Linked DNA regions of Homo sapiens: region 2 is linked to region 1. The links come from fine-mapping of genetic effects on gene expression. A gene starts in region 1. The other region holds a variant in brackets. All regions are shown on one strand. Distances are from middle to middle.

Region 1 (11,942 bases):
GGAAAGGATGGAGGAGAAGTCGCCATCACCCTTTCTTGGAGGGAGGGGGCACATATCCAGCCTCTTGTCATTTGTGGAGCTATCAGTTTCTCCTCTGGATGCTGATCAGATTTCCTGGGCTGGAACCAACTTACAGGGCCAGGGTACTGGAATTTTTCCAAGAAGTAAACGCTTTGCTTCTTACAAAGTCAACATGATTTCTTTCAAGGAAAATTTTAATTTTTTTAGTGTCTAGGGTTTTTGAAGGGCAAATCTTTGGACCTTTCTCTAAAGAGAATGATTATATTATCCTTTTTTTTTTTTTTTTTTTTTTTTTTTTGCTCTAAGACCACCTCTCCACCACACACACACACACACACACACACACTCATAGAGAGGCATGGGGGTGGGAGAATGATTTGTCCAATATTGCACAATGAGTCAGTGGCATAGCCAGAAATACAACTATACAAACTCCCAATTCTTAATAATAGAAATATTAATATAGTCTCTATAATTTTCTATTTATTTTTGTTTTCACAGCTCACATTTAATTTTCACAACAACTCTGGGGGAATCTGGGTAAAACGGTCTCAGGAGAGAGCAGATCTGAATTGCAGACCAGCTCTGTCACTTGCTTGCAGTGTGATCCTGGCTGCTTCCCTCTCCTCTCTGGATCTCAGTGCCCTCGGCTGTGAAATGGGAGAATTGGATGAGAGTACTTCTAAAATCACTCCCACCTCTAATGTGCTGTGATTCTGTGCTGCAATGCTCCAGTCCCGGGTTTCTCAATCTTGGTGTTAATGACATTTTGGGCCAGATAATTCCTTGCTGTGAGACGTGTTCTGTGCACTGTAGGATGTTCAGCAGCATCCCTGGCCTCTACCTAGTGGATACTAGTAGCACCCCATTCCCCAGTTGTAACAAGAAAAAGTGTCTACAGACATTGCCAAATATCTGGGAGGGGGAACAAAATAACCCCTCTAGTCACCATTCAAGGATTTCGATAAGGTAAAAATCATGAGTGGTTCAGGGGAAAAACGGTCTTCCTCTCCCTTCCTTTCCCCCAACCCTTTCACACCTTTCTGCACACTTTTCAAAGACAACCTCTCAGTCCTTTGCTGCTTCTTATTTCTTAAATGCCCTAAATGGTCTGGGGTGTGTTTGGTGTGATAATGAACCAATTGATTTCATACTTTCTCCTAAGGAAAGTTCACAGGTTTATGTCCCCTAAGCAACCAGCCAGGCTCTCCAGAAATCCCTAGCAGAGCCCAGGCTGGCCTGGAAGCCTGTATCTGCAGCCTGCAGGAGGCTCGGTGAGCACGAATTTGTCAGCACTCTTAAATCACTAGGCTCCAAGGAAGGCTTCTCCCAGCAGAAAGATCCTTCCTTAGGAATCAATAGCTCAGGGCCCTCCATCACATTCAGAATTATCCTGGGACCCATAAAATTTCTTTTCCCCAAGCATGGCAGAACCCCAAAGTGAAAACCCTGAGGTGGGGCAGGGAAAGAGGCAAGGAGGGAGCCCTGCCAAGAAGGCCTTGCCCATCAGCCCAGATATTGCTGTGAGCAGAGGCTGATGTGCAAACCTGGGCACTCAGGCTCACTCACTGGGAAAAAGAAGACTCGGGGGTTCCCAGTGATTCAGCAATAATATCCCCTTCCAACTGAATACCTCTTTACCTCTAACCAAGGGCAGAGGAATACTAAAGACTGTCTCCCTCCAGCTTCGCTCCCCTACCCTCATCACATGGTTGTCAGCCTCATCATTTAGCAGAGAAGGAAACTGAGGCTTGCAGAGGTTAAGTGGTTTGTTTAAGGTCTCTAAGCCAGCAAGCGGAGACCAGATTCTAAGCCTGTGTCCTTACCATTACAATGAGAGGGGGAAGGGTCAGCCATCTGGTGGGGCTCATAAAAGCCCCACTGGACAATTTCCTGTTTCTCATAGTCTAATGCCACTTCTCAAGCTCTCTACCCACTCCCGCATTCAAACAAAAGTCCAGAGAGCTTGTACTATAACCACAATGTATGTAAGTATATTCCTCTGGTCTTATCCAGAACCAGAACAAGTCTTGAGAATGCAGGCTCATTTCACCAGGTAAAGCTAGGAGCTGGTGAGATCTCAAGCATAGCCTCTTAAGACTCCAGTTTAAAGAGAGGGGCTTTTCCTCTCCGGTGGTCCACGTGATCCTGCACCTCCCTCCTCCCGCTGAAGATGAAGCTCCAACTTCATCTTCTGTGAGCATGAGGGAGAGGAGGGGACTCAAGCATCTTCCCTGGCAACAAGCATCCCTTTCGTGAGTCTTAGGGAGAGAAGAGGATTCCGCCTCTCAGAATTCTGGCTTGGCAGCAGTGGGTTTCTTACGAGGGTAGGCTTCCGAGTCTGCTGAGGCTCCAAGGAGAACCAGGAGGAAGTCCATCCAGTGTGCAAAGAAGCCAGGTGGGGAGATAATAACAAAAGGGGGCCGGGCGCGGTGGCTCACGCCTGTAATCCCAGCACTTTGGGAGGCCGAGGCGGGCAGATCACGAGGTCAGGAGATTGAGACCACAGTGAAACCCCGTCTCTACTAAAAATACAAAAAGTTAGCCGGGCGTAGTGGCGGGCCCCTGTAGTCCCAGCTACTCGGGAGGCTGAGGCAGGAGAATGGCGTGAACCCGGGAGGCGGAGCTTGCAGTGAGCCGAGATTGCGCCACTGCACTCCAGCCTGGGCGACAGAGCGAGACTCCGTCTCAAAAAAAAAAAAAAGAGAACAAAGGGGGCCGCCCACAGGCCACTCAGCAAACCTGTTTCCCAGAGCCCAGCTCAGATGTCGACAGCCAGGCTCTCGGAACAGAAGAAAGGGCAATGGAAATGGTAGTATCTTGCAGGTCACCGAAGAAGTCCAAACATAAGGATTTGGCAAAAATAGAATGTCCTAGCACTCTGACCTTGAGCTGGGAGCAGCAAGGGTGGGGGAAATAGGCAAATACTCTTTGGAAACTCTCCAATCCATCTATAATCTGAATCTGGGAGGTCTCACCAGCAGTGGTGTGACTGCAAGCAGAGAGACCCCACGCCAACATTCCTTGGCGCTCCAGACCTGGGTTCCAAGACCACAGTGAGGGACTCGGCACTTCTGACTCCTAAATGCACAGACTGAAACCTGGACTTGCATGGCTTTTGCTTAAAACACCACTTGGAATAATGAGACGAGATTGTAGAGGCAGGGAAAGAATAATTAGGAATTTCTATGACCTGTGTATGTCCATGACAAGAACTGTATTTTCTCCTCACCTCCTCACTCTGAAAAACAGATTCAAAATAGAATCTCCCCAACTGTATGGGATGTATTAATTTACCAAAGCCTGGTCAGTCAATAACTATGAGTGCCTACTGTATAGAGAAAGTATGTCCATCTTTATAGTGAAGAGGAAGCAGGCCGCTGGAGTGGAAACAGCTCTGAATCGAGCAGTGGGAATCCTAGGGCCTAGTTCCATGTCTTCCACCAAATAGCCATGTGACCTTGGCTTTATCCAGCTTCAGTTTTCTCATCTGTAAATTAAATGTGCATGTGAGTGTTGGGATGGAATGGGGTTGGATGAGATGCTCTCCAAGGCTCCTTGCTTCTGGCTCTAATGTTCTGGAACTCCATGAACCCTTAAAGAGTTCAAAGAACACAGCGGCACCAAGCACAAAGGAATGATCCCCGAGAGAGGGTGGGGCTGTGTACCAGCTCTGTCTCCTTGGAATGTTGTGCTTGCACCTGCCCCATAGCACCCGAGGTCACAGGACCACCTGAAGCCCAGGAAGCATGTGGTAGAAGGATTCCAAGTACGATGGTGGTGGTTGAAGGCTGTAGCCTGAGCTGCCTTAAAGCATTAAGTTGCTACAGCCAGTAAAGGGCAAGAAGTGAGAAAGTCAGTGGTCCTGAGCCAGGTACCTTTGGCGCCCCCTACTGGACACCAAGGAGTCTGCTCCACCTTTAGGCTTCCACCGCCTCAGCACGGAAGCAAGGGAGCGCTTGAGCATGAGAGGCTGTCACAAGCTGTTTAGTAGGACTGCCTTCCCGGTTGGTGGTATTCTTTCTATAGAAGTCTATTGCACTCCCTAGAATTACACAGGCCATTGGTCCACAGATTTACAGGGGCACCCCTGCGCAGCCATAGGACGTCTTAACCAAACATCAAGGTACCAAGGAATAAACACCAGGGTTCAGAACACCAGGTGCAGCCCAGATGGAGAAGGGAAGAAAGAGCAACAAGCAGGTATTTCGCTGCACAAATCCCCAGTGGAGAGAAGGTCTTGGGAAATGCAGCAGAAAAATGTTGACTGCAGCAGACAACGATGGAGCTGGGGGTTGGGATATAGATTGATAGCACCCATAAAATATCTCCAGGCTGAAGCAGGTACCCTAGGAGTTTGAACATCCACCTACATTCAGGGATGGGATAAGGTGGAGGATTCAGGCTCAAATGAGCAGCCACAGAGCAGGTTCCCCAGACTCCCTACACACCGTTTCGACCTTTTCCAGAGTCCATTAGTACCCACCGGAAATGGAAATGTTCTAATTGTGGTCCTCTGTGCCATCATCAAGACCCTCAACTCCCTTCATTACCTCTTAAATTGACTTTAGGACCTACTGCCAGAAGGATGTTCTTAACCAAGTCAGAGAGAGAGAGAGAACATTTTCTCAAGAACCATGCTGGAACAGCCACCATGTTCCCACTTTTCCAGCCTCCACCTCTCCCCCATGGCTGAGGGTGAGGTACTCTGTGACTCTCAATGAGCTCTAATTCAGTCTTGGACATCTCCAGCCCCAAGTCGTCTGGGTTCCAAATCTCCGTCAATCGCTTATCTCTTCCCACATGAGTTCTCCCCTGACTCAAGAAAACACTATAGAACTGTCCCCTGTCCTGGGACCCTCTTCCCTTCTTTTCCACTTGGCTTCACGTGGAAAGTCCTGCACCCATCCCAGAAGACACCTCAAGTGCAACTCAAGAATGTGTCCTGTCAGGAGAACGGAAGCATCTCCTGGGATGTGCAGAAGCCACACTGGGTGCACCCACCAGCAGCAGCAGCGGCGGCGGCGGCGGCGGCGGCGGCGGCGGCGGCGGCAGCAGCAGCAATATTCATTAGTCATTCCTGGAGGAAGCCCCCCCAGCTCTCAACCCTAGGAGAATTTCCCCGCCACTCTGGGAGGCTTCCATCCAGGCTGGGATGACTTTGGATTCTTGAGTTGCTTTCTGCAGAAGCGGGACTAACCAGGGCTCCCAACTACTGTACTGCAAAGAAGCGCGCTGCATTGCTGGGCATGCCCCCAAGCCCGGCCTGGCTGCCCCATCAAAGCCTCCAAGTGCCCCCACGGGGTCGAGGAGGACTCAGGGTTCCCCTGGAATGCCTGAAGCCGGCTTGCCTCAGGCAGCCTGAAGGGAAGACCACACCTCGTCCAGCATAAGGCGGCTAGCAGCTACGCCGCGCGCGGGGCTGGCTCCCGGAGCTCTCTGCCACCCAGCGCTGTGCCCGGGAACTCGGCTTCCCAGGGGAGGAAGAGCCAGCCCGCGGGGCTCTTCCCCAGCCTGGAAGCGTAGGCACTCGGCCGAGGCCAGTGGCTTCCCAGGCCCGGGTCTCAGCCTGGCTGACTGGGAGACTCTCCCGATAGCCCGGCACATCCCTCCTCACCCGCTCCGCCCCCTCCAGGCCCCAGAGGCCCCCTCCCCTGACAGCTGACCTCCAGTGCGCCCCCAACACTTTCTCTGCCAGCTGCTGGCTGTCGCCCCCACACATCAGCTCCCACCTCTCCGCCACCTCCAACCCGGCCGCCGCCTCACCCCCAGCCCGCGGGGGAGGCTCCGCGCGCCAATCGAGTCCAGCGCCTCCCAGCAAGTTAGGAGCGAAGCCGCCGCCTTCGCGATCCCAGTCTTCCCGGGTTCCCGGGCGGCGTCCCCGCCACCCTTGCGGGCGGATCCGGGGGGGCGCGCAGAGCTGGAGAAACTTTCTCCGCCTTAGGGTGGGGGGCACCGGTGCAGATACTCACGCCGGGGTCAGCGCTCGGAGCCATCCTCCCGCTCTCGGCCCCGCCGCCTAGGGGCGTGGGAAGCGGGCGCTCGCTGCCGCCTCTGCCGCCGGCGCCGCCGCCTGCTTGCTCCCAGCCCCGGTCCCGGGCTGGCCTCGAGCCTCCCGCCCCGACGCCGCGCGCTCGCTTTATACAACTCCACTCGAGCGCGCCCGGTCTTATGTAAAGGCTGGCGGAGGCCCGCAGCCAATGGCGCGGCAGCTGGAGCCGGGGGCCCGGGGTGGGGGGCGCCGGCGCGGCCAATCGCGGCCCCGAGAGCCCGGAGAGCCGGGCGTGGGGAGGGAGCGCCTCCCCGCGCTGATTTAGGAGCCGGGATTGCGGTGGCAGCAGCCGGCAGCCAGGCTGGCCCGGCGCGGCGCGGCGGCCACTGGGGTGGGCGGCGGCGAAGGCGGCGGCGAGGGCGGGCGCCCCCCGCGCCCCGCCACTGCGTCGCGTAACCTTCAGGCGGCAGCGAGGCCTGGCGAGGAGGGGAGAGGGCGCCTGGCTGGGCGCTGGGGGCCCCAGGCCGGAGGGAAGCGAGGGTCCCTCGGGAGGCAGCGCAGGGAAGGAACGCGAAGGGGGAGGGGAGGGCGGCGAGCCCCAGGACCCCGCGGCCACCCCTGCGCGCAGGACCGAGGGTGGAGGCGGGAGCGGCTGCACTGCCTTCCCATTTCCCCCCAGGATAGCGATCTGGCGTCGCCGGGCCGGGCCAAAGCGGCCGAGCGAGCCGCGCTGATGGCGAGATTTCGACTACGGAGCTAGAGCCGAGCCGATCTTTATCCAGCCTGGGGACGTGTCCGAGCACCTCCCGGGGACTGCTCAGTATGGAGAGCAGGGCTCCGCGACGGCCCCCGCAGGCGGGGAGCGGGCGAGCGCAGCTCGGAGATCAGGCGCGCAGAGGCCCAGGCGGCTGCGGGCAGCGCCGCTTCTACCCCACCCCGTCCCCACCAGCAGTGCCCCCACCCCATCCCACCTAGTCCCTACCCCAGCAGTGGCCGAGTCGGGCCTGGCCCACCCGCTCCTGCCGCCTGCGTCCTACTAGCCTCCCTCACCGCTTTGATCACAGGTACTGCCCGCCTCTCCTCGCCCCCAACCCGCTGCCTTGGTGGTGGTGGGGGGATGGTTTCTGCCTCTCTGGACCAGGGGAATGGGGGTGCTAAGCGCCAGAAAAACACACTTGATCAGCAATGCTCAAAATACCCCTGTTCAGGCAGGAAACTGGCCTTGGTGGGTCACACTCTGAAGGCAAATCCTTTATTTTACGCCTAGAATAGAGCCTGGCACATAGTAGGCGCTCAGTGTTTATTGAATGAATTCTGAGCTTCCATGAGTGAGGTCTTTGGGTTTCTGAAAGCCAGGTAAAGGGGCCACAGAAGAGAAAGACTTGGGAATCCACCATCGGAGAGGGAAGGAGCTAGGACTGTTTTCCCATCCGTTGACGCTTTTGTGACCATCACCCACTAGTCTGGCTTCTGGGCCCTTGACTCTTAGAATGATTTGAATGTGTTCTTTTATAGAGGGCCACACATCCAGCCTCTGGCCCCTGTTATCCACAGATTTTGAGCAGAACTACCAGGACCTAGTCTGGGCTCTGTTTTCAGGTCTCTGTGATCTTCCTCTGAAAAGAAATAGCTAGGCACAGACAAACTTTCTGGCTTTTTGAGCCCCCATCAAGCCTGTAAGGTTGTGGGCCCCTTTGAAAATCTGGCAAAAATTACTGAATCATTTTTCTAGAAAAATATACAAACACACACATTTACACACACACACACACACACACACACACACACACACACACACACCTTGAGTATACTTTCAGGATCATTAGGAACCCTGAGTCTCTTGGGGCTCGGTCCAATGTCAACCTGTTTCTTCAGGGGTCTAGGACAGTAGTTTATAATCACCCTCCTTTTGGGGATCACAGACCCTTTAGAACCTTTCAAGAATCTCATAAATGTTATGGATCTGTTGCTTATAAAAATGCTCACTCACATACACACATGTTGACATGCAACTTTAGGAGGGTTCGTGGATCATTAAAACTTAATCTAGGGCCCTGATTAAGAACCTTCATCTATCGGCAAATAGACTCTGCCCCCAAGGCCATATCTGATCCCCAGCTCTCTGCATAAGGAGTCCAGTTGGCTCTGCACCCTGCTGGAACATGCCACCACCTTGTTCTGAGGGCATCTGAGTCATCTGGCCAAGGCTCTGGCACCTGAGAGACTGTCTCCACACTTTCTCTGCATCTTGGTCCCCGCCACCCTCTTAATGTGGAAATAAGTTGCAGGTTGTCATATTATGTCTGATCTATGAGCATTCCTTAGCCAGAAACTCCAACTCAGGGAGACAGCAAGTGACTGGTAATTAACCAGTTTCACTCAATCCCAAACATCTGAGCACACCTTTCTTGGTTTTTGTTCTCACCTCTCTCTTCTCCGGTGAAGCTGTGCACAGCAGCCCCAGCTGTAGCGCCTCACCTCACCCAGACCCGACAGATTTAGTAACCAGCACGGTAATTATCAGCATTAGCCAACCAGATGTGAATAGGTGCTCTGTGCAAAATAACTCTGTAATAATCTCACACTTTCCTGCAGCTAGCCAGGTAAGGTTACAACAGACCAAAGGTGCTAGGGAAGGACAGAAAAATGCAGGAAATGATGGAGATGTTCCAGCCAGGAAGTGCTCCAGGGAATACAATCTGGCTTCAGCACTTGAACTTGTGAGGGTTTAGCCCAGTGGGCCAGGCAGTCCTGGTTGGAAAATTTCTCATTTCTCTGATGTCCTCGATGTCCATTTGCTCAGTTCATGTCAGTGTCTGCTCAGAGCTCCAGCCCTTCCCCACCCCCAATCCCGTGAGAGACCTCTTGTCCTCCCACATTGCCCAAACACAGCTTTCTTGAGGCACATGCACACGGTTATAGACTGAATTGTGCCTCTCCGGACCAAATTCACATAGTGAAGCCCTAACCCTTAGTGTGACTGCATTTGGAGATAAGGCCTTTAAAGGGGCAATTAAGGCAAAATGAGATCATAAGGGTGGACCCTAATTCAATAGGACTAGTGTCCTCGTAAGAAGAGAGAGAGATACCAGAGATCTCCCATTTCTCTCTGTGCATCCTCAGGAGAAAGCCTGCCTGAGTAACAGGAGGAGGCCATCTGCAAGCCAGGAGCAGGGCCTCTGCAGAAACCAGACCTGCCAGCACCTTGATCTGGGACTTCCAGGCTCCAGAACTGTGAGAACATTAACTTCTGTGGTTAAGCTCCACGTCTGTGGTATTGGCTATGGCAGTCTGAGCTGACTAATACACACATTTTCAGCACACCCTTACCCCATGCATCTTGTTCAGGCTCCAGTCCTTTGACCCCAGTGAAGTTGTTTTTTCTTCAGAGTGTTCCCCCACAGACTTCTTCATTCTTACCTGGGGAACGTGCTTAAATTGTTTTCTCATCTGTTCATACCCAAACCAAGTCTTCCTTCCTGCGCCACCTTCCAAAACTGCCCTGGCCAGCAGTTTTCAGCTCTCCTGCAGGTCTACACCATCTTATCACCTGTGATGCACATTAGCTTTTTTTCACTCAGTGATACTTGGCCTCCCTATCAGAATATGAGCCCCTTGAAGTCCAGAGTTTGTACCTTGCAGTTGACTACCTCACAGAACCCAGCATGAAACTGGGCACAGAGTGAACACACATTAGATATTTGCTGAGTTATTCCAATTAAACCTATTTACTTAAAAATACTATTAAAGCTGTACAGTACTTCATTTTCTAAAAACTCAAGATGTATTGTGTGTGTTAGTCATCATCAACATCACTGGAGCAGGAGTTCTCAGGAGCTAGTTTTCTTCTAAAGTCCAGGATCAGAGAGGTTGGACTTTACGCAAGTTGCTAACAGTCATGCAACAAGTTAAGGACAGGACAAAAACTGTAGGAAACACTGAAGACAACCTCCAGACCCCATGTCCTTTCATTGACAAATGACTTTGTTAATTCTCTCTCTACATTAGAAGATTACTTGGCTATCTTCTCTCTCTCCGGGTGAGAAGTCAAGACACCAGATCTTAGAGATGCTTCTGTCCCAAGAGTTCTGTCACAGGAGAACAGAGAGGCTGGTACAGTTCCTCACACCCTTATCTGAAGCCCTTGAGGCCAGAGGCATTTTAGAATTCAGAAAGGCACCATACATAAACATTCTCAGTGAAGCTTTGAGCAGCATATTGAAATCAGACACATTAATATTTCTGCAATGAAATATATGAAGTTTACACTAAGCAGGTGTGAGGATAAAGTAACTTCACATCAGTTTAGGTCAGATTTTGCTACCAGATGAGTCTTGGCATCAAACTTGCAAAACAAAAATCCTTTTGACTTTCAGAGATTTGGGGATTTGGAATTGTAGATAAGGGATTGTGTATTTTAGGCTTGGTTGTCTCAAAAGAAATGAATCTTTTTGTAAGGGGGTGGAAAAACAGCAATAGTTGAAAATGGGAAACCACAAACTGTGAAAGAAATGAGGAGCTAAAGGGGGTATGAGGAAATAACCCCTTCTCAAACCAAGTCGTATGGAGGGGTCGTCCCTTTTTCCCAAGGAGTACACATTTATCACATGGCCGTTGGGTTTCAGATGCACTTGTGGCTTGTAAGAGGCAGATGCATAGGATGGACTTTCAAGGGGAGGTAGGTTAGGGGTAAAGTTGGACAGGAACTCTTTTAGAGAAGCCACAAACCCTGGGGGATGGTTCAGTCAGGGCCAGAGCCAGAGCCATCACAGATGCAGAAAGGAGTCTTCCAGATGGCCAGAGAGTTTGTTCAGAAGACCTTGAGCTGTGAGCGCATGCTGCAGGGAAACTCTGCAGGCAGAGCAGCCCCAGGAAAGGGATGCTGGAAGAAGGAGGACATGATGGAATCCTGGGGAAGTCTGGTTAGAAACTTTCGAGGCTGTGGGGCAGGGGGAAGCCTGGAGGTAACGATGCAAGCAGGTGTCTGCTTATCATGTTAACCTGTGCCAAAATGGCTTGGGTTCCAGGAACTTACCTGCCTATGTGTCCAGTGAGCTACGGGGTTTTCCCACACTGTCGTGGGGGTGGCTCTGCAATCTGAGGGGCTGGTTAAGAATGTGATGCAGGGAGGGAGATGGGAAAAGGAAAGCCATGGTGGGCCGCTGACCACACAGCTCTCTACTCCTGCTTGAGATGCTCAGCCAGCAGTCTTCATGATAAACAGGCTCCCTGGAGTCCAAGTCAACAGCAGGGAAGCTTCATCTTGGATCTTTATCATTGTTGCTGACCTTGGTCCTGCTCTACCTTTCTTCTCAGGTCCTAGGACCCCACTGTTACCTTTTTCTTCTGAGAGAGCTCCTGCTGGTACCCCCAGCTCCAGTCACTGGGTCTCCATCCATTCTCACCTCCTGCTGCCCTACCCCATGACCCAGGACCTCAGGGCCTAGGATTCTGGGCTCTGGATGCTTTCCTTTCTTCCCTGTGACTGAGTCTTTAACACCTGCTGCCCCACATTCCAGGCATCAACTGCCCTCTTGAACCTCTGCCAACTGCCTCATGCCAGCTTCCTTTAACATGCCCCCAACCTGGCCTCACTTCTGCCTCCAGCTCCCAGGACCTCCCCAGACCCTGGCCCTGCCTTGGTGGACAGGTCCTGTTTTGGGTTCCAGCCCTTCCTGGTCTGGCATATCCAGCTGCCAACCCAGCCAGGTTTCTGACAGACATGAGCTCATGGTCATGGTTTAAAAAAGAAAAGAAAAGAAAAACCCTGTCAGCAGTTGGGTGGTGGTAGCATACATTTACTAGCAGCAAATGCCAGGGAGCTCCTGAGCTAGGGATGCCCTCGTCAGTTTCCATCCTAAGGGAAGAGAGATAAATGGGTGAAAAGTGAACAGAAGAGGAAGGGGAACAGGAAGGAGTAAATAAAAGG
Region 2 (11,942 bases), 160 kb before region 1:
GGTGAAGGGTAGTGGGGGACTCGACTCACTGTGGGCCTGGGGAGGTGTGGTTTCTCTCTGCTGGCTTAGTTACAGGTGGTGGCCTGTCTCTCCGGGGTCTGGCTGTAGCCATGTCCCTGCACCCACCTTGCCAGCCAGGGACAGGCCCCATCAAGACCCAGGAGCAGCTCCAGCCTCAGCCAGACTGTCCCCGAGGTCCCAAGTGAGGCCCCAGCCACTCAGGCATGCCTCAGGAAGCTCCTGCTGCACATGCTCCTCTCCCTGCGCCAGCACCCTGCTGTCTGGCTTCCTTCCTTTGGCCACAGGGCGGGTGTGTGTGAAACCACAGGGTTTACAGAAGCTCGAGGTGCCACTGAGTGGCAGGATTATGCACTGCACTCGGGGAATCAAAGGTGGAGACAGAAAGAACTATGGCTGTTGTGACACGTCCCCCACGGCTCCCCGGTTGGCAGCCACTGCCACCCGCAGGGACTTTTCTGTGGCTTCCAGAGGTGTGGGGCAAAGGTGGAGTCTGGTGACTTTCTCCCTAGGGCCAGCCCCTGGGCTGTCGAGCCTGGGAAACTCCACATCCCTCTCCACACCTCTAGAAGGACTCACAATGAGGGGGGCCCAGACAGGAGGCATCACCACCTGGTTTGGGCTTTACCATTCACCCAGGGATAAGGCAAGGCAAACACCACTCCACATCAGATCTGAATTTGAGCTCTGGCTTCATGACACTGACACATGAAGACTCTTGGAGCCTCAGATTCCCCAGTTGTTAAATAGGGAGACTAATATCTCACAGAGTTGTTTAGACCCGAGGCGTTCAACCTTGGTGGCAATGGATGTCAACTGGAAGCATGAAAAATCACCAATGCCTGATCCTATCCTCAGAGATTCTGATTTAATTGTTTTGGGGGACAGCTTGGGCATCAGGATTTTAAAGAGTTTCCCTGGTGATTTTAATGTGAAGGTAAGGCTGAGAATCCCTGGTTTTGACAGTACCTATAGCCTATAAGCCTTTAATACACCTCTGAAAATGCCTGAGACCTGAATAAGAAGTTTATGGTTCCACAGAAGCAGCCAGACACAAAAATGCATATGCACCATGTGATTCCCCTTATATGAAACTGAAAGACAGGCCAAACTCGCCTTTGATTGGGAGTCAGGATCAAGATTACCCTGGGTCGGGGGTAGCGAATGGATGGGGACCTGGGGGGCTTCTGGGAGCTCAGGATGTTCTGTTTCTTGATCAGAGTGCCAGTTACACGGGGTGCTCACTTCATGAGAATTCACTGAGCTGTATACTTAAGAGCTGTGTATTTGTCTGTACTGGTGATATATTTCAATAAAATTCACCAGAAAAGCCTGTTGGCTACAAAATAGGAAAAGAAAGGACACACTTGAAATTAACGTTTTGTTAAATATCTGGAAATGTAACACATATGCCAAACAGACAACTGCAACTCTATGTTACGTGTGTGTGTGTGTGTGTGTGTGAAAATGTAATGTCTGCTCTGCTGTGGGTGGGCCCTCTAAAAGGGAAGGTCCCTGATGCCTAAGAAAATCTGAAAACAGCCCAGGTTCACACCAGGAGTTCTTAACCTCGACCCGACTGCATTCAGGTGCATATTATGTGCCGTTATCTGAGGAGAGCATCTACAGCTTTCAGCAGATTCTCAAAGGGGTATGCAACCCCCTAAAAAGGTTAAGAACAATTGGTTTTGAGGAGTCAGTAAGAAACTGGCCATGAATGTGCTTGGCATGAAAGAGATGCTTGGTAATGTCGGTTTCTTTCCTTCCTTTCAGAGCCCAGCCTTCGGAGGTTTCCGCATGAGCCTTCTCGGGCGACTTCTAGGAGGATTTATTCCCCTGGCAGTGCCAAGGGCAGCCTGCACCAAGCTCACAACTCTTCCTCCAAGAGGATGTTCAAAGGGCCTGTCATTTCAGCATCTGCTGGACAGCAGAACTTCGCATGCAGGATCCTGGAGCTGCGTCGGGTTTTGAATCAGGGACAATGGAGGAAGTGGGAAACTGTGAAGAGAGTCAGAGGGCTGTGCCAGCTGCCCCCTTTCCCACCCCCAGCAATTCACTTAACTTTCCTGAGTCTCACCTTTGTCATTATGAGAATGTGTATATTTATAAATAATCATCTGTTTCTCCAATGTAAGATATTGTTATTGCAGAAGTGATACTAGGACCTCGTTATACGATGGCCTCATGATGTAGATTTATAGCAGGCTTCAGATTCTGGCATAGAATAAACAGATATTTATCCAAGGGTTCACTGATTCCCGAATAAATGCCAGGAACATTCATGTACATTATTATTCCATTTAATTCTCGAACACTGGGGTGTTGAAATCTTATTTTACAGATGAGGAAACTGACGTTCTAGGTGGTTAGGTAGCTTGACAAGGGCTAGTAAGTGTCAGAGCAAAGACTTGAACCTAAGTCTCTGACTCCAGATCCCACTCTCACTCTGCCACAAGAGTGAGACGTGGGAGAAGAGAGAGTGTTCTACCTGGATTGACTCATAAAGATAGAAGACAGATTCCAGACCAGAGAGAAACTCGTGGGCAAATGCATCCCCAGAAAAATTAGCTTTGCAGGGGCATGAAGGTACTAGTTATTTTGGAGTAATTCAAGTTATCGATTTCTGTAATGGAAAAGTGATTGGGAACCAGCTATCACCTGAGAACAGTGCTGAGTGAGGCCCCAAGAAGGGGGCAATGTTACACACAAGCTTACACACAGCTTACAAGACCTCAGAGATTGCGAGGGTCCTTTTCCCTGCTGCCCACAATTAATCAGTACACTTCTCAAGGGCAGGGAGCCTGTCTTACTCACTCCCCACCCCCACCCCCACCTCCCCCTATCCTGAGTGCTTGTTTCAGGGCCTGGCCCTGGCCAGGTGAATGGAAGATGCTGCCCATCTCAGGTTGGCAGGAAGAGGCAGGCCTATACAGATGTGTCATCTGCAGACCCCTAGGGCAAGGTGCCACTGAGAAGCAGCTCAGTACCATGCAGATAGGCAGTGGTCACTGAAGGATACAATTCACCTGCAAGTGGTCACCTTATAACTCAATTAAAGGATGGATGCAGTGACCCCAGGCTACCCCCTGAGCTGGGCAGCAGCTCTCAGTGATGTTGCCCTAGCTGTGACATTGTGGCTCTGCTCATGACCTCTACCTATCCTGGGAGAGGAGGGGAGGAAGCGTGTGTCCCACCCCAGTCGGCCCTGCCTGACACTCCCCAAACACCATTTTGAGGTGGGGAAAATCCTTCTGGTGCTGAATTCTTTACCTGAGAGATCTGGACCTCAGGCCCTAGAGAGTGAATTACTGTGAGTGAATCACTGGCTGGATGGCTGGCTGGCTGGATAAGTGGATGGATACAGAGAAGATGGGTATAGAGAGATGACTGATAGATCAGAGATGAGCGAGAGGCCTGCCTGGCTTGAGATGGATGCTCGCAGACCCTGGAGAGGCAGGTGAATGGATGGGTACCGATCGCCCCTGGGCTCCCCAGTGCAGATCTAAATATAGGGCTGGAGCTCTTCAAAGGGAAGATGCCGTGCTATCCCAGTCCCCAGATGAACTCCGCATTTGTAACTCTGAGTGATGGATGTGTCTTGTTGGGAAGAATCCTTATAGGTCTAATATTGCCCCAGCTAATGGCTTATGGATTGTTTTAAAGTCAGGCATTGCTGGAAGTGAAACCAGGAGGTTAAACGTCCTGGCACAGATTTTATGACAATATCTGCATTTCATCAGTCAGGCACTGCAGCAAGTACCTTATAGGCTCGAGGAAGCCTCACAACAACTCTATGAGGATTTTATCACTGCCTCTATTTTGTGGATGAAGAAACTGAGGCTCAGAGATGAAACAACTTCTTAAGGCCACTTCCAAATGCCTGGGTGGAGGGTCTGGATTTCAAGTCCATTTGATCCCAGAGTTTCAGTGTGAAGGGAAAATTTTAAGGACAGTTGAAAGGAAGGGAGAGGGGAGGGCCATAGGATTTGTGCACAGCTCTAAGAACGAACATGGCATTTTGGCACATGTGAGACACCTTCTGCAGTGGGAGGAGGCACTGAGACTTTCCAATGACTGGGTGACACGAGGGCAGCCCCAGGCTTCCTTCTCCCTCTTTCTTCTGTGTCAGCCTTCGAGGGCTCTAAACCTTGAGTCTGGGGATCTGAACTGCAGAGAGGGTGTATGTTTGGCTCACTTTCCTTCCTTTGGCCTAAACTTGTCCTTCTGCCATGGTCTCCATAAGCAGTTGGGGAAAGAGGATGTGCTTTTTTCCTGTTCCAGGAGCTCTACAGCCAGGTCTGGGGTGGAGGGAGGGAAGTTAGCCCTTAGATTTGTGGGGAGGGTGCATTAAATGACTCTAGGGGATGAGATCCTTCCTGGCTGCTCTGGGGCTGGCCATGAAGAAGGAGAACCAGCTAGCTTTAGGGGAATTATTCTGGCCCCAGACTGCTTTCCTGCTGGCAGGCAGGCTGAGGGCATGAGGTTCTGGGCGGGACGTTCTGGGAACGGGTGATACAGATTCTCCATCTGCCGCACCCTTCTCCTGACCCTGCCTCCCTCCTCACAGCTGAACAGGCTCCTCTCTGCACTCGGGACCCCCATTCAGATCTGTATTTAATCCCAGCTGAGTTCTAAGGACCAAGTATGGTTCTTCTGTTACTTGATGGGCACGTATCCTGACTCAGTTTCCATGTCAGCAAAGTGGGAAGGATAAGCCCTGCCTCTCTTATTCCTGATCTTGTTCATACACTTGGGCTTCTGGAATACCTGGAGCTTTCTGGAGAAGGGTGCTGGGAGCAGCCTGGAGCTGAGCTCTTTTGAGGAGCAGCCGGCAACCCGGCAGGAAAAAGGACCAGACGGGGGTGCAGATGCCTTGGGAAAGTTGCAGCTCCTTTTTGGGCCTTGGTTTCCACGTCTGAAAAGGAGGGAAGAGGACTAGATGACTTCTCAGGTGTTCCTGGATTTAAAGCTCTAGGATTCTGTGATTGTTGAGGGCCAAATTCCCAGGCCAGTTCACTAGCTCCTGGTGACCTCTGCTCTGTATGGCCCAGTCCATGCCATGCCCGCCTAGCTCAGTTCACTTTGTTTTATGACTATTCTTTCTGGGAATGGCACTGCATGAGAATTCAGCAGAACATAGCACAGCCCAGGCCCCAGGAAGGTTGGCTCTGCACCTTATGGCCATTTGCCATCTTTTTCTGGTGAATCTGTCAGTTCTCCAGAGGTGGCCCCGTCCTGCCCATCTCTCCCACCACAGGTGTCCTGGGTGGCAGCAGGGTGTACCGGGAAGCACAGGAGCTTTGGCACTGAACGGGCCCGGGGCTCCATCCTGAACGTGGCTACTTAATAATAGTATCTCTAATTTGTTGGGGGCTTTCTATGTGCCAGGCACCATGTCAAGTCTAATATAATAACTCTGTGAGGTATTATCCCCATCTTGCAGATGGGAAAACTGAGGTTCAAAGACACCTTACCTACTTTAAGTCTTTGCTCAATGCCTCTTTCTCAGGGAGCCCCCCTGCCCCCGCCGCTATTTAAAATGGCATTCCACCTCCATCCGGGCCTTCCCGGATGGCCTTGATGTTACTCTTCTCCAGCCCTCCATAGCACGTATCATGCTCCAACATGCTACAGACTTTCCTTATTCTGGGTATTGTTTAGTGCCTGCCACGTCTTGCTAGGGCAGGGACCTTTGCCAGTGTTGTTCACAGATGTATATCCCAAGCCACTAGAACAACATCCAGCACACAGTAGGCGTTCAGTCACTGTACATCACATGAACAACTGGTTAAATAACTTCCCCAGTGTCAGTTACCTAGAGATCGCACAGCATAAGGCTTAAGAACCCAGGCTTTGGAGCTAGTCATGAGGTTGAATTACAGCTCTTGCCACTTTAGCTAGCTATGTGACTTTGTGTAATTTACTGTTTCTGAGTCTCAGTTTCTCTGGTAATAAAATAGACTCATAACATTTATATTCTGGGATGGGTGTGAGTATTCATGGAGACATGGATGTAAAGTTCTTGGCATATGGCAGGCATTGCATAAATGTTAGCTGCTTTCCTGGAGGATGTTTTTCTTCTCTCTTGCGTCTCATTTTCCCTCTGGTGGCCTATTTTTTGACCACTTCACTGTCAACAGTAGTTCCTTAGAGGACAAGCCACCGTGGGAGAGGCTGGCGTCATCTGTGGTGTTAACCAGCCCATGTTCTCTTGCCTTCCTTCCAGGATATGCCTGTTGCTACAGACACAACAGCAACTTCTGGCATGTTCCTG[G/A]CCCCTGTGGCTGGGGTTCTGGCCTCAGAGAAGACTGGCCCTGGGCACAGGGAGGCAGGGAGGGGCTCGGTTTGCCTTCTGGGCTGGAAGTCTGGGTGGAGGTTCAGCCTGGAATCTGTTGGAAGAACTTGGCTGGCTCCCTGCAAAAATGAAGTGCTCATCTTCCTGTCTACACGGGGCTCTTGGAGTCTGGAGCGGAGTTCCTGCTTCGGCCGAGGTCCAGTGGCACTGGCCTGGGTGTGATACCCAGACCCTGGGAGGGGGCCATAGCAGCCAGAGTGACACATAATCAAACTCCTGGCCCTCAGAATGGCACCTTCCCAGAGTAGGGTTGGCAACCGTGTAGATGCTTGAAGAGGCCTAGTGGATGGTTTACCATTCTGCCTCAGTGAAGGTTGGCTGAGCCCGCCTGGCGAGGGGACTCTCGACATTAGCAAGCACTGCCACCTCTTCTTGCAGACTTGAACGTGACCGTGGGGAGGACTATTTCAGATCACTAGGCCTCCAGGGGCTCCATTTTTCCCCTCCCAATCCTGCTCTTGATCCTGGGCAGCATGAGTGACTGTGGCTTTTGCTTAAACCAATTCACCATCCCAAATGAAGAAGGGAGTGGTAGTTGAGAGTGCCAGCTGACAGCCAGACTCCTGGGATCCAGTCCTGCCTTCGTCTGTCTGGGCTGTATGACCCTGCACAAACCATTTAGCTTATCTGTAAACGTGGGATAATTACAATACCTTCCTCTTGAGATTATTATGAGGATTAAACGAGTTGATTATTGTAAAGAGTTTAGATTCAACCCAGACACGCCAAGCCCACTAAATGTAAGCTATTATTGTCATTTTAAGGGGTATGTGCCTGTGAAGAGGGAGTATTCTTGAGCAGAATAAAAATGGTATTATTCTTATTATTTCTTTTTTGTTGAAAAATGGGGAGCATTTTTGTGGCAGCACTGGCCCACCTTCCCACTGGAGTGAGTTGTGGCTGCCTGGTGCAGGCAGGTGGGGCACCAGCTCCTCCATTTGCATAATCCCTTCCGGGTCCATTTCATTACTTGACTGCCCCTAAAGGCATTTGTTATTTTTGTTACAAATTAAAGTGTAGCATAAGGCAACAAAGATGTCAGGAGCCTAGGTGGGGCTAAGGGACAGGGAAAAGACAGACTTATCTGTGTGCAGGAGGGGACGGAACGGTTTGGGCTCCCACGGGTCTCAGAGAAAGGGATTAGAAGAAAGAGGGGAATGGGAATGCTGAGCCTGGGTAGCTTGGGGGTGGCTTTGCACCCGCAAATCTGTGGCTGGTATAGCACAGACCAGTAGATGCATTGAATTTGAGGCACCTGTTCAAAAAGCCTGTACTGCTAGCTCAATGAGGAGGCTCTGTTTTTTTTTTTTTTTTTTTTTTTTTTTGGTAAGGGGGTAGGTAATGTTGAGTGGGTTCACTATCCACCTGTCCTCTGTATCTTTCAGCCTTGTATCTCTTGCAACACAAGCATCTTGGGGGCAGGGGACTTGTCCACCTCATTAGAGGGTCTCTATCACATTCCTCATGGGAGGAACCTAGTGCTTGTCATACAGGATATTCTCAATAAATGCTTGCTGAATGAATATGTAAATGAATGAATGCAGAGAGCTTGCTTTCTGGTATAGCAACCTGAGAATTCAGCTCAACTTTTTAGAAAGCCCCTTGGTGTCCCACTCCCATCCCATGCACTTGGCTCCTCTATCTGGCTGGAGGGAAGGCAGCGTAGGGGTGGCAACAATGTTACCTTCACTTACCATTACATACCTAGAGCGTAGCTCAGTACCTGGCACATAATAGGTGCTCAACAAATATTACTTTCACTTACCATTGTATGCCTAGAGCCTAGCTCAGTACTGGGCACACAGTAGGGGCTCAACAAATATTGCTTTCACTTACCATTGTATGCCTAGAGCCTAGCTCAGTACCTGCACATAGTAGTAGGGGATCAACACATATTACTTTTACTTACCATTGTTACCTTCATTTACCATTGTACGCCTAGAGCCTAACCAAATATTTGGCACATTGTAGGTGCTCAATCAGTATCTGTTGAACTCATGAATGAATCAAATGGAAGCCTTATCCTGGAGTCTGAGTGCTGCAGTGGTGCTCTTATCAGCTGTGGGAACTTAGAACTCCTCTTTGCAACTCACTGGACCCCACTCACCCAACAGGATCACATGACACAGATATACCCTGTTATATAAAACTCATTGTGAAGGCATTCATGGTTGTCACTTATAAGGCATCATCTGAAGTCTGCTGTCACCCTGAACCCCCTGATGTCCTTGGCAGGCCATCTCTGTAGTTGTCTTGTCCCTTATTTCTTGTGCTGTTGTGTATGGACAGTCAATGGGCTCTGTTATCTTGTCATTTACCACTGCATTTGGAACCATTCCTCCATGGGTTTTGGGTTTTACTTATCTCACTATCTTAGATCCACTTTGTTCATTTTTTAAAAGGCAGCAGCTTCCAGAAGGACTAGGGAATAGTCTGAACAGTGACAGAGCTGCCTGTTACCCTCTGACAAGATGGTGTGGTGGGAAAGGGCTCCAGCCCTGGCCTGGGGAGCAGTGGGCTCCATGACCTTGGGCACAGTGACCTTGAACACTTCAGCTCTCTGAGCCTCATCTCTGGAGCCCTTTCAGATCTTTAGTTCTATGTCAATACACAGGAATGGGCTTTCTAGAAGTGGAATGATTTTTAAGTTGGTGTCTGCTTTTCAGGGAAATTGTAGCTGTTTTAATTTAAAAACTTTTCATTTATGCTTCTGTTCTAAGTGTAAAAACAGCACTAGCTACAAGGAATTCATATTTTGTGATTTATTAGGAGTATTACCATGATATCAGAAAATGGCAGGGGCTTTTTTTTTGTTGAATATGTTTTTAAAAGGGTTGCTGCATTCTTAAGTGTAATTTTATTATATCCTGGGATGACTTTTTTTCCCCATGAAGAATAGATCTATGTTTTATAACAAGCCTTCACTACTGAGGCTGGTCGTGAGCATATTCTGTGGCGTTACATCATTTCCAAAGAGTGTTCTGGCTACAGGAGCATTCTATTTTCCAAGGAGATTGCAGAGACCAAGTAGCAAGGTTCTTTCTAGAAATCAGAGTAACCTGAGATGAGCCAGGCCTATGTCCAGCCAGACATTGAGGAGTCTTAGAAAGGAAAGGCCCTTAGGGATATACCAGCCCAACTCTCTTGTCATCTACATTAGGGAAACTGAGGCACAGCATGGAGAAGTGACTTCCTGCAGGTAAAAGGCCTAGAGTACACACTCCATTTCTGCCCCTCACTCATCACACATCCTTCACTTGGCCCAAACCCTGGTCCCCCAAATGTGAACATTGTTGTACGCAACCAAACCACTGCTGGTGCCTGAGGGTGACACCTGCTTTGTGTTATGATCTGCTTTCAAAGCATCTCATGGTGGAAGGGCTGCTCCTAATTCAGCATTCCAATCAGTTCTACTTGCCCCAGACCCTTTTTATCATCAGTTTGGCACTAATATCTAGTAGAGAGTTTATTGGCATAATTTCTTCAGAAAAGAGGCTGGAAGGCTTAGCAAGTTCAAATGATAACATTTTTATCAAGAGTCCCAAAGGACCACCCTTTTCCCTCCCATCACCACCACCAACACCAATAAGGCTTTCTCTAGCACAGGAAGTCAGGGGCAAAAAGCAGAAACAGCACAGGCCAAACCAGCAGGCACATGGTACATTATCGGATCAACCGGCAAGCAACCACCTGGGAGCCATCTTTGTTAAGGGCAAAATAATGAGCTCACGAGACACTGGAGGATACAAGACTATCTTGATTCTTCTGAAGGAGTGAGGGAGACTGGATGGGGTATTGGAGACTTTCCTTTCTGTTTTCTCAGAAAACATGCAAAGAAAGTCTTCACAAACAACTAAGGTTGTGTCAGTATCGCCCAACCTTCCCTTTTCAAAGATGGCCACCCCTGTTGTCCATTCAGAGGGAGCACACAGCAGAACCTACTGGGCGTGGAGAGAGAGACAAGCAGCAGGAGAGAGATTTAGTTTTCCACAAAGGCTGTTAGTTTTGTTTTGTTTTTTCCTTTATTGATGGGATTTAAAGTGCATATAACTGAAGGCAAAGTCCAAGGCCTAGAGAAAGATATGAGGCCCGAGAGAGAGGCTCAGAGATTCTAGAGGCGGCTGAAGAATACCCACCTAAAAAGGCCACTTGAGCTGCAAAAACGATGCGGCGGGGAGACAGAAAATGGGAAAAAGAGAAAGGGGGTGGGGACGGGGTGGGGGTGGAGGAAGGAGTTTGGGAAGAAGAAATTACCAGTTTAGAAATTCAGCCAAAGATGAGTAGTAGGAGTTAGTTTATATCCCAGCTATGAAAATACGGGCTGACCTCAAGGTAGGAACAGTTGTTTTAGGAAAAGTAAGAAGAATGATAGCCTCAGGCCAGGACACAGCATCCCCTGGCCCTTCAGGTGATGGTAGAAGTGATGGGGCTTCTCCAAGCCTCTGTCATGGTCTTCCCTGGAGACCCAATATGGGTCAAAGGAGACTCTATCCAGCCAGGAGAAGGAAGGGGCTGGGGACCTTGATCTGGGGCCTACCCAGAGCTCCCCAGTGGAAAGCAACATCCTTTTGCTACTGGCCTATGGCTGGGGCCCCACTCACCCACGCAGGCTGTGCCATCCTCGTTGGGCTCGTAGCCCCGACTGCACTTCTTGTTGGTCCGGCACCTGTAGCTTCCATAGGTGTTGACACATACGGGCTTGTCTCGAGGGCACACGAATGGGAACTGGATGCATTCATTGGTGTCTGCAAGGCGAGGGGAACCACTCACCATGAAGGTGTGGGGCAGCAAGTACCAGCCCAGGCTCTGCCTGCCTATACACTGTCTGGCTTTGGGAATGTGCCTTCCTCGCAGAGCCTCAGTTTCCCTGCTTCAGTTCCCTTGGCTGGCTCCTCCTGTACTTGGTCTCTACATGCTGGGGGCAGGGGGTGGGCACTCAGGCTTGGTCCTGGGTCCTCTCTTCTGTCTACTACAATCGTTCTAGGTGATCTCTTCATGCATGGATGATTCCGAAAGTTCTATCTCCAGTCACAACCTCTCCCCGTGGCTCCAGACTCACGAATACAATAACCCATGACCTACTTGACAGCTCCACTTGGATGTCTAAGATGCACCTCATGCTTAATATGTCCAAAATAGAACTCCAGATTCTGCCCTGCCCTGCCCATATTCTGGCCCTCTGTTCTGTCTTCTCTAGCTCAATCAACACCCCCATCATCAATCAGCTGCTCAAGGGGAAATCAGAGCGACCCCTGATTTCTCCGTCTTTCTTGCCCCCTGTGCAATTTCACAGCAGAGCCTGTCCACTCTGCCCCGCAGTCCACCAGTCCACCTCTCTCTGTCACCTCTTTCTCATTCCTCTGCCACCACCCAATTTCCTGCCATCGTGACCTCTTGCCTGGATTTCTGCAGCTGCCTCCTCACAGAATACCTGGCTTCCCCTCTTCCCTCCAATCCACTCTGCAATTCAGCAGCTGGAGGGAGCCTTTAAAAATGTGAATCACATCATGTCACTCCCCAGTTTAGCTTCTAAGGCTCCTAAGAGCAAAATTCAGACTCCCTACAGGGG

Alleles and levels. Positions count from the first base shown, and alleles are read on the strand shown. Sizes are in standard deviations (SD) of each study's normalised expression.
As copies of G replace A in region 2, the expression in thyroid of the gene that starts at base 6,166 in region 1 goes down (moderate effect, 0.40 SD a copy in GTEx).

What was found.
Region 2: its variant is fine-mapped to the expression of CRTAC1 in thyroid (GTEx, PIP above 0.99). The same link has a PIP of 0.9 or more in subcutaneous fat, tibial nerve and visceral fat.

Annotation. Positions count from the first base shown.
Region 1 is chr10:98,024,456-98,036,397 of GRCh38, forward strand. It overlaps CRTAC1 (cartilage acidic protein 1), which reads right to left and starts at 6,166. Exons shown (of 15, transcript NM_018058.7): 1 at 5,994-6,166. The coding sequence starts at 6,017.
Region 2 is chr10:97,869,275-97,881,216 of GRCh38, forward strand. It overlaps GOLGA7B (golgin A7 family member B), which reads left to right. Exons shown (of 5, transcript NM_001010917.3): 5 at 1-2,304. It overlaps CRTAC1 (cartilage acidic protein 1), which reads right to left. Exons shown (of 15, transcript NM_018058.7): 14 at 10,975-11,118. MIR3085 (microRNA 3085) reads right to left here and starts at 6,623; the gene lies at 6,539-6,623. RefSeq lists an enhancer at 6,550-7,050. The variant G/A (reference allele first, on the strand shown) is at 6,293.